2 linked regions of the Homo sapiens genome follow. The protein of the gene in region 2 purifies or fractionates together with the protein of the main gene of each other region. This does not show direct contact. Each region holds a gene or a part of one and is shown on either strand. Other genes may lie near its edges. The genes, in order: TMEM245 and BTN3A2.

The links.
Region 1: the proteins of BTN3A2 (region 2) and TMEM245 purify together in Homo sapiens (affinity purification with mass spectrometry; one large-scale study listed by BioGRID and IntAct). This does not show direct contact.

What each region holds. Positions count from the first base shown.
Region 1 is NC_000009.12:109,116,945-109,121,350, forward strand, and holds the start of TMEM245 (transmembrane protein 245), read right to left. Parts: upstream 3,004-4,406; 5' UTR 2,970-3,003; coding exon 2,391-2,969; intron 1-2,390.
Region 2 is NC_000006.12:26,371,527-26,375,338, reverse strand, and holds part of BTN3A2 (butyrophilin subfamily 3 member A2 isoform a precursor), read right to left. Parts: intron 2,458-3,812; coding exon of another isoform or gene 2,443-2,457; coding exon 2,242-2,442; intron 2,064-2,241; coding exon 2,043-2,063; intron 1,953-2,042; coding exon 1,926-1,952; intron 1,013-1,925; coding exon 972-1,012; 3' UTR 966-971; intron 569-965; 3' UTR 541-568; intron 1-540. UniProt on the Homo sapiens protein: Plays a role in T-cell responses in the adaptive immune response. Inhibits the release of IFNG from activated T-cells.

The sequences.
Region 1 (4,406 bases), on a different chromosome or scaffold from region 2:
TTTCTTAAACTCAGATTGACCTGAAGGTTCTTTCAAATTTAGCCCTTCTACCACTCCCTACTCACAAATACTTAACTCATACTTTTATGTTGAGTTTGTTTTTTTTTAACCCTCTCTCTTTTTCCTTGCTCCCAACACTTGAGCCAAACAGCTGAATTTCAAGGTTTTTTTGGTTTTTTTTTGAGACGGAATTTCACGCTTGTCACCCAGAATGGAGTGCAGTGGTGCAATCTTGGCTCACTCCAACCTCTGCCTCCCGGGTTCAAGTGATTCTTCTGCCTCAGCCTCCCAAATAGTTGGGATTACAGGTGCCCACCACCACACCCAGCTAATTTTTTTTTTTTTGTATTTTTGGTAGAGACGGGGTTTCACCATGTTGGCCAGGCTGGTCTTGAACTCCTAACCTCAGGTGATCCACCCGCCTCGACCTCCCAAAGTGCTGGGATTACAGGCGTGAGCCACCGCGCCCGGCCAATTTCAAGCTTTTAAAAAATCATTAATTAGTTTGACCTTCTTTCTCCCACTCCCAGGTCTAATCAGTGTTGGCCCCTACTTCTCTTCCACTCATCCACAACCCACAAATGAAATACAAAGATGAGGGTTTATCTTCAGTAAAAAGATACTCAAAGGTATACGCCGAGCTGTGGATGTTTCTTTACAAGTGCTCAACTCTTTCCACTGAGTATCTGAGAGAGACTGGTAGAAATGCCTCATAATCATGCCAAATTACTTAGGTATTCAACTTCTTACTCTAGCATGAAAATATACTATTTACATGTGGCAGGCCTTTCTTTTCTACTTTCCTATAGTTTGATGGATATGCTCCTTGAGCAGTATCAACAGTCAAAAATGTTAGCAGAATCTATAAATGTGTCTTTGACAAAACTGAATTTCTTCAGGAAAATAACCAAGCTTATTTTTCTTAGAACATAGTGTTCTGCCTTCTAGCTAAGAAGCATTCGATCCACTTAACTGAATTGTGAAACTGCAAGATAAAGGATAAAGAGCGCTGAACTGGGCCTCCATAAAAGTGAACCACAGATTTGCTCATGAGCTGTGTGACTTTGGACCAATCACATTCTCTGGGCCTGTGGCCCACAACGGATGAGTCATGAACATTTATCTGTATGTCTGTCATCTCCATTAGAATATGTTCATATAGGATTATATGTACCGTGAAGACGGGACCTGTATCTTAGTCCTTTTTTAAACCTCTCACAAAGCCCAACACCTAACATATGCTCGATCAACTTTAAACATGAACCAAGAGGTGGTATTGAGGGAACAAGAGAAGAAGGGTGTTTTGGGTCATTCATCACTCTGCCAATAACCTCAGGCAAGCCAAAACACCGCTAGACAGATAAGGGGAATTAATATTTTCCAACTTAATGACGTCAAGGTACACTGAACTTTATTTCACTGACAAAAGAAGTGAATCAATTTGTAAATGGTACTGTTTATGAATCAATTGGCATTCTTACGCACTAAATCTCCACTTGTTTTTAACAGTCTCCAGTTAAATATGTGGATAATTAACTAGTCCACAATATAGTCTGAGTTAGGAATTGTGTCACTAGATTACCTTTGAAATCTTTCCAATTCTAAAGCTCCCTGGTTTTGTAAGAGTAAGCTCAGGTTAATCCAAGCATCACAAATCTACGTCTCTCCCCTTCACGCGGTCAGCTGCTTTACTCCAGGCGGGAGGAGGTGTGCTGTGGTACACCAGTCCCTGCACAACAAAAGCAGTTACCTAAAAGTAAAGCGTGGAGAGGAAGAAGCACAGGCAGCTCAGCACCCAGTGCCTTGCACAAATTATACAGGAATCACCTGAACTGAGAGGCAGCACCAGCCAGTGAAGCAAGCTTTGTTTTAGGACTTGTAAGAAATCTAAGACACCCAAACCCCTCTTTGTCCCTAAGTAGCCCTAGCCTGGTAAGAGGTCACCTTTCCTATCTGCAGGATGGCAAGTTGGCCTAGAATCTCTAAGGTCCCTTCCAGCTCTGACATTCAGATGCGCAGAACTGAGGGTGGCCGAAGCACCCCCGCCCTCTCCAACCAGAAGTAAAACCAAGCCCCACTGCCATGCTCTGAGGCCTCTCTCTGCAAAGCGAAATAACGATTCTCAATCCAGGGCACTGTCCCCCTAAGAGGGCCTATTAGGATTGAAACAAGGCGAAAAGCAGGGAGGCTGTTTCAAATCACGCCCGCCCCCTTTTTGGAAGAATGTCCGCCAAATTCCTGAGGTGTGAGAAGGAAAGCGGAGACGGACGGTCACTGCAGCACAGGTGTGGCCCCTCGTCGCCCCTGCACCGGGAGGAACAGCTGCAGGATTGCACCCCAGAGCGCCGGGACCACGGGCGGGGGACGGGGGCGGACTGCCGCTCACTCACCCACAGGCTGCTGAAGTAGTCCAGCCCGCGGCAGATGAGCGTGGCAGCGTGCACCAGCAGCACCTGCACGCCCAAGTAGCTGCCGAGGCAGTAGAGGCCGTACAGGAGCGGGCCGCCGGCGCCGAGCAGCAGGAGCAGGCGGCGGCGGCGCAGCGCCTGCTCGCCCAGGGCCTCGACGCCGTAGTCGACGAAGCAGAGCGGCAGGAGCAGCGCGGCCAGGACGATGGGCGTGTGCGCGCGGTGCAGGCGCTGCAGCCAGTGGCGGCCCAGGCGCGTCAGCGAGCTCTTGAAGGGGTGCAGAAAAGTGCCGCATAGCACGGCCCAGAGCAGCGGCCGCAGGAAGGCCTCCAGGATGAAGTAGACCAGCACCGCGGCGCCGCAGCACAGGCACACGAACAGCACGGCCCCGGTGTTGTAGAAGGCCTGCTTAATGGGCTTGTCGAAGCGCAGCGCCAGCGCCGCGGTCCGCGGGGTCTCCCCGCCACCGCCACTCGGCCCGACCGCGCGCGGGACCCGCGGCGCCGGCCCGGGAGAGCTCCGCAGGCTTGGCGCGTCCTTAGGGCCGCCGCCGTCGGCCATCGTTCCTCCGCCACAGCCGCCCCCGAGGGGCGGTAATGGGAGTCGGGCTAGAAACGCGGGCGGGAGGCAGGGCGGGAGGCGCGCGAGATTGTGGGAGTTGTAGTTCCCCGCTGGTTTACAGACCCACCAAGCGCTTGCAGGAAACTACAACTCCCGAAGGGGAAATGGGGAAAACGCCTCCGCCTCCTTGGTGTCCGCAAGGTCCTGCTAACAAGTTTGCAGGGTCTATATCTTCCTGGAGGGGGGGGGGGGGGGAAGCTCCTTTCACTCATTCGTTAATGTCAATTTCTCGCGAGGCGAGATCCCAAAAGGCGCCACATTCAGATATTAAAACCCAAGCTGCATACTAGAATACCGTGGGGGAGTACTTTTAAAGAACCAATGCCCCGATTCTGTTTTACTGATTTATTTAACAGATATTTTTAAAGTGTTTTCTTTGGTGTATCTGACAGGATTTTAAATAGAGATTACCATATAACAGGCCCTATTCTAAGTGGCTCACTCCTATTAACTCATTTAATCCTTAGAACAACCCTACAAAGAAGGTGTTATTATCCTCATTTTACCAACAGAAAAACTGAGACAGAGCCGTTAAGTACGCAGCCAGAGTCACACAGCTACCAAGTGGCACAGGCAAGATTCAAACTCAGGGATTCTGGCTCCAAAGGCTATACTTTTATCTACCATAGTATTTGGCCTGAGGAAAGAACTCTTGGCATTTTTCAAACGTTCCTCATAAGCCTGTAATTTGCAGCCGCTGTTGACAACTGTTTGTGCAGGTTTCGCTGTGGACGCAATCTAAACTCTTAAAAGAGTCGTAGATCAAAGTCTCAAACTGCCACTGTTTCTTTTTGAGACTTGATGTAATGTCAGTTAAGCCCCCAATCTCAAGTTTTCCTCTGTCACATGGCGATGATAATAATAATAGCTTTTGCTTTAGGGTTATTGTGTGGGGGAAGGGAAACTCTGGGGCGGTACAAGGTGCTTCTGTTCCCCTATTGGAAAAGTGCTGGGATCCAAGCCTGCTACCCATAAAATATCCCAATCAACATTTTGATTTAAAAAAAAAAAGAAAGCCTTGACTGAGTACTCAACATGTGATTGCTTCAAACCTTGCAAGTTGTCCCTTTCCTGTTTCAATAGTATTCCTATTAATTTCTACATAATTTTTGTTTCCCTTCTAAAGCAGACAAGACAGGTAACATAATCCACAGTTTGCAGATAAAGAAACTATTGCTTGATAGATTTGGAGACAAAGGGATTTAGTAAAGGAAGTAAAGGAAAAAGTAATTCCCTATCCATCTCGATTGTAAGTTTTAGGTCTCAGTATTTCAGATGGCCTTTGGAGTTTTATAACCAAAACGCAGGTTTAGTCGCTCACCACTTGCAGATTCCAATTAACAAGAGCAAGGTCTGGTATAAAGAAAGTGATGTATT
Region 2 (3,812 bases):
TCCCAGGCTAGGGGTGGAGACAGCTCCCCACTGTTGGGAACCATGGGGGCACTGCACTTTTCCTTGTTGCTTTCCCTTAACCCTTCTTTCTGGAAACCTTGTCCAACTACCCAGTTTGAGCTCACCATCTATTTCTTGCTAGGTTTCTGCCAAGCATGTTCATTATTCCTTCAGTCTTCACCTCAACCCCCATGAAAAACAGATTGCAATCATCATCTAAAAATGTGGAGGCCAAAGCTTGGAAGCATTAAATCCTTTGAGGAGATACAGGCAGTAGGTGGCATGAGAAGCCTGGGAAGGACAAAGTTCTTTGGGCAGGCATCACCTCCTCTCCTTGGCATTTCCATCCTCACTCTCCCTGCAGTATTACTCAGTGTGTGTCTCCTTCCCTTCACCTCCACCCTTTATGCGTCTTCCTACCCACGAAGGAAGTCAAGGGAACTTTTCTGCTCCAAATCACAAGAGTTGGAGAAGAAAAAAGGAAAAAGGAATATAGTCCCTCAGGTTGTTGGTCCAGGGAACATGCAGTGATTTACTCACCAGGCTTGAAGAGGGCCATTTTTCCATTCTGAAAGGAAGGAGACACAGATAAGAAAAAGGTCAGTATTTTTGTACTTTTCCCACTCCATTCTCCTCTCACTACATGTTTTCTCTCCTTTTCTTTAGAGTCTCTTCCAGGGTCCAGCTTCCCTCCTCTACAGCTCTGATGGATCAGAGGTGGCACCTTCTCAAAAATGTCAGGCTTGGCTCCCTGTGTCATGGGGGGTGCAGGATGCATGGCCAGGCTTTACAAGGGGGTGTGCAGGATCAGGAGTTTCTCAGAGGCTCCAGAAAAGCGGAGGTGAACCCCCACCACACAGAAATTGAGTCTTTAGATTAGATCTAATTAATCCAGCTGAGAACATCCACGGGTCACAGTGGAGAAAAAGTTGAAATATTCAGGGCATGTGACCCAGCAAACTTACAGAGCATCAGGCTGACTTATTGGTATCGGACGAAGACTCCTCTCCACCTACAATGAAAGAAAGGTAGAGGTGTCACCAGAACTCTGCCTTTTCTGTGTTGGCCCCTTCCCCTTCTTTTTGCATCCATCTAGTCTTTTTTTTTTTTTTTTTTTTTTTTTTTTTTTTTTTTTTTACCATCCCACCCTTCCCCATGGTCTCCATCTTCAGGTACAATTCTTTCTTCACCTCTTCTTAATATCAAGTCTGGGAACATCGGTTGAACGCTAGTGGCAGGGCAGGCACTGTGAGAGTTCCTTCCCAATGGGGTCCAGCTCATCTGTTTTGAATGTGTACCTGGGCATAGGTGTCACCATGTCTATATGTGTATGCCTAGGAGTACAAGATTCATCCTTCTCAATCTGTATCATTTCGTACCTTGCTCTAAAAAGAATTTGGGAAATTTAATGAGCAATTTCAGGGACTAGTTTTTGAAAGCAGTTATGATCTATCTGTACCAACTGAGCCACTGTAGCTACTCCTCTTTATTAGACACACTTTTCTCCCTCCCTCTCTCTTTTCTGATTTTCTTATTTCTTAAATCTTCCATTCTTGTTTTCCTTTCAACAGCCTCTAGATTATGGGAAACAACAAGTAAGTTTCCTGCCATAGAAAATGCACCTCATCCTTCTCTTCCCTCTTCCTTTTGAAGTGTACCCCTGGATATTCCTCAGTGCTTTTTAGAGCTTAAGGGTCTGTAGCCCCTAGTACAAAGAGATTGAAGACCTCTTTTTTTTTTTTTTTTTTTTCTAGAGAGAAAAAGCACTGGGTGGTTTCTCCAAAGAGCCACACTTGTTTTCTTTTTCTGGGTAAAGGGATCCAAGACCACTTTTCAACCCTGGGCTATGACTTATGGGCTGGAAAATAATGAAGCAGAGAGAGAGTAACAGATTTGAATTCAGAGAAAATGTCAAAGCCACTCACGAGTCAAGTACTGGATTTTTTTCCTCTCTGCAATGGAATGAACAGGGAAGAGTCATCAAGGTGCTCAAAGCGAGGATAGGAAGACATGTCTGGATCTCTGGGGGAATGGTAACTTACTGAGTTCCTCCTGGAGGCTCTCTGGAAAATAACCAAAAAAAAAAAAAAAAAAAAAAAAAGATGAACTGTTATGGGTGAGGTTGGTGTTTCGGGAAATAAACCTTAAACATGATGCAGTGCCAGGGTAGGGGAGAGAGGTGAGGTTTTCAGGCTGGGGCATGCAAGCCAAGAGCTTAGATTCTCTGCTTGCGTTGGATACCTCTTAGGCTTATTTCCCGCTCTGTTGCAGCATATCCCATTTCTTTCATCTCTTGCTCACTTTCTATCTCACTGGACAGAGCAGTTATTTCCTTCTGTTGTCTCCACAAGAAGTAACTGGCTCCGGCGAGAAGCAGCAGCAAGATAGGCAGGGTCCCTGCCAGGGCTGCGATCCAGGGCTGGGCGCTCCTGAAGAAGGGGTCTGCGAAGGGGAGAGCTGTAGGTCATGGGCGCTGGTGCGCTCAGCCTCCCCAGCCTGCAGCACCCCAAGCTTTAGCTGCTCAGCTCAGGTCGGGGGTGGGGAATCTATCTCATGAGGTTAAATAAGGATTCTCTCCCTAAAGTCTCAGAGGACTATAGATAAGACTTTGGTAAACCCTCACTACAAGCTACTACTATTACTTATCTTGAGATGTCTGCCTCTCACATGGAAAGTAACTTGAGCAAAGTCATACACATTTTTTCTAAATATTTTTTCAATAGGTAACACATTTACATCGTTCAAAACTACATACACATAAAGTCACGCAACTCTCTCATTCACCCTGTCCTCCCTCCCTCCATGTATTAACTTCTTAGTCCACTTAATATGATGCTTAGGAACATAACCTGTGGAGTCAGAGGGTATGGGTTTCAATGCTGGCTCCCCCATGTGACTAGCAGTGTGATGTTGGACTACTTACATAACCTCTCTGTTTGTAGTGGCCTAATCTACTAATGTAAAATGAGGGTAATGATAATACCTATTTCCTGAGGTTAGAAGAATTGAATTAATACTTATAAAGTGCCTGATGTACAGTAAGTGTTACAAAATTGCTTGTTGAAGTTTAAAAATGTAAACTAACCCAATTGAGAACTAAAAAAAAGTAAATTAAAATATATTCTTATTTTTCCTCTTGTTTAAACTAAAAATAGCATTCTATACACGTCCCTCTGCATCTTGCTTTTTCTGTGTAAAGTGTATCTTGGAGATCTTTCCATATTAGTATAGAGAGAATTGCTTCTTTTTCCTTTTACAAACTGTGCAGTATTCCCTTGTATGGAAGTTCCCTGGCAGTGAACATCTGCACAGTTTCTAACCTTGTGCAATAGTAATCAGTGCTATAAGAAACCTTTTACAGGCCGGTTGCAGTGGCTCACGCCTGTAATCCCAGCACTTTAGGAGGCTGAGGCGGGTGGATCACTTGAGGTCAGGAGTTTGAGACCAGCCTGGCCAACATGGTAAAACCTTGTCTCTACTAAAAATACAAAAATTAGCTGGGTGTGGTGGCACATGCTTGTAATCTCAGCTACTTGGGAGATTGAGGCAGGAGGATCACTTGAACCTGGGAGGCAGAGGCTGCAGCGAGCTGAGATTGCACCACTGCACTCAAGCCTGGGCAATAGAGTGAGACTTTGTCTAAAAAAAAAAAAGACACACACACAACGAAAAACAGAAACCTTTCACATGGATCATCTCATACAAATGCAAGCTTATCTATCAGATAAATTCCTAGAAGTGGAAGTTTGGATCGATAAGTGTGTAGTTTGGATAGATATTGCTATAGAGCCCCCAACAGAGGTTGACCTAAT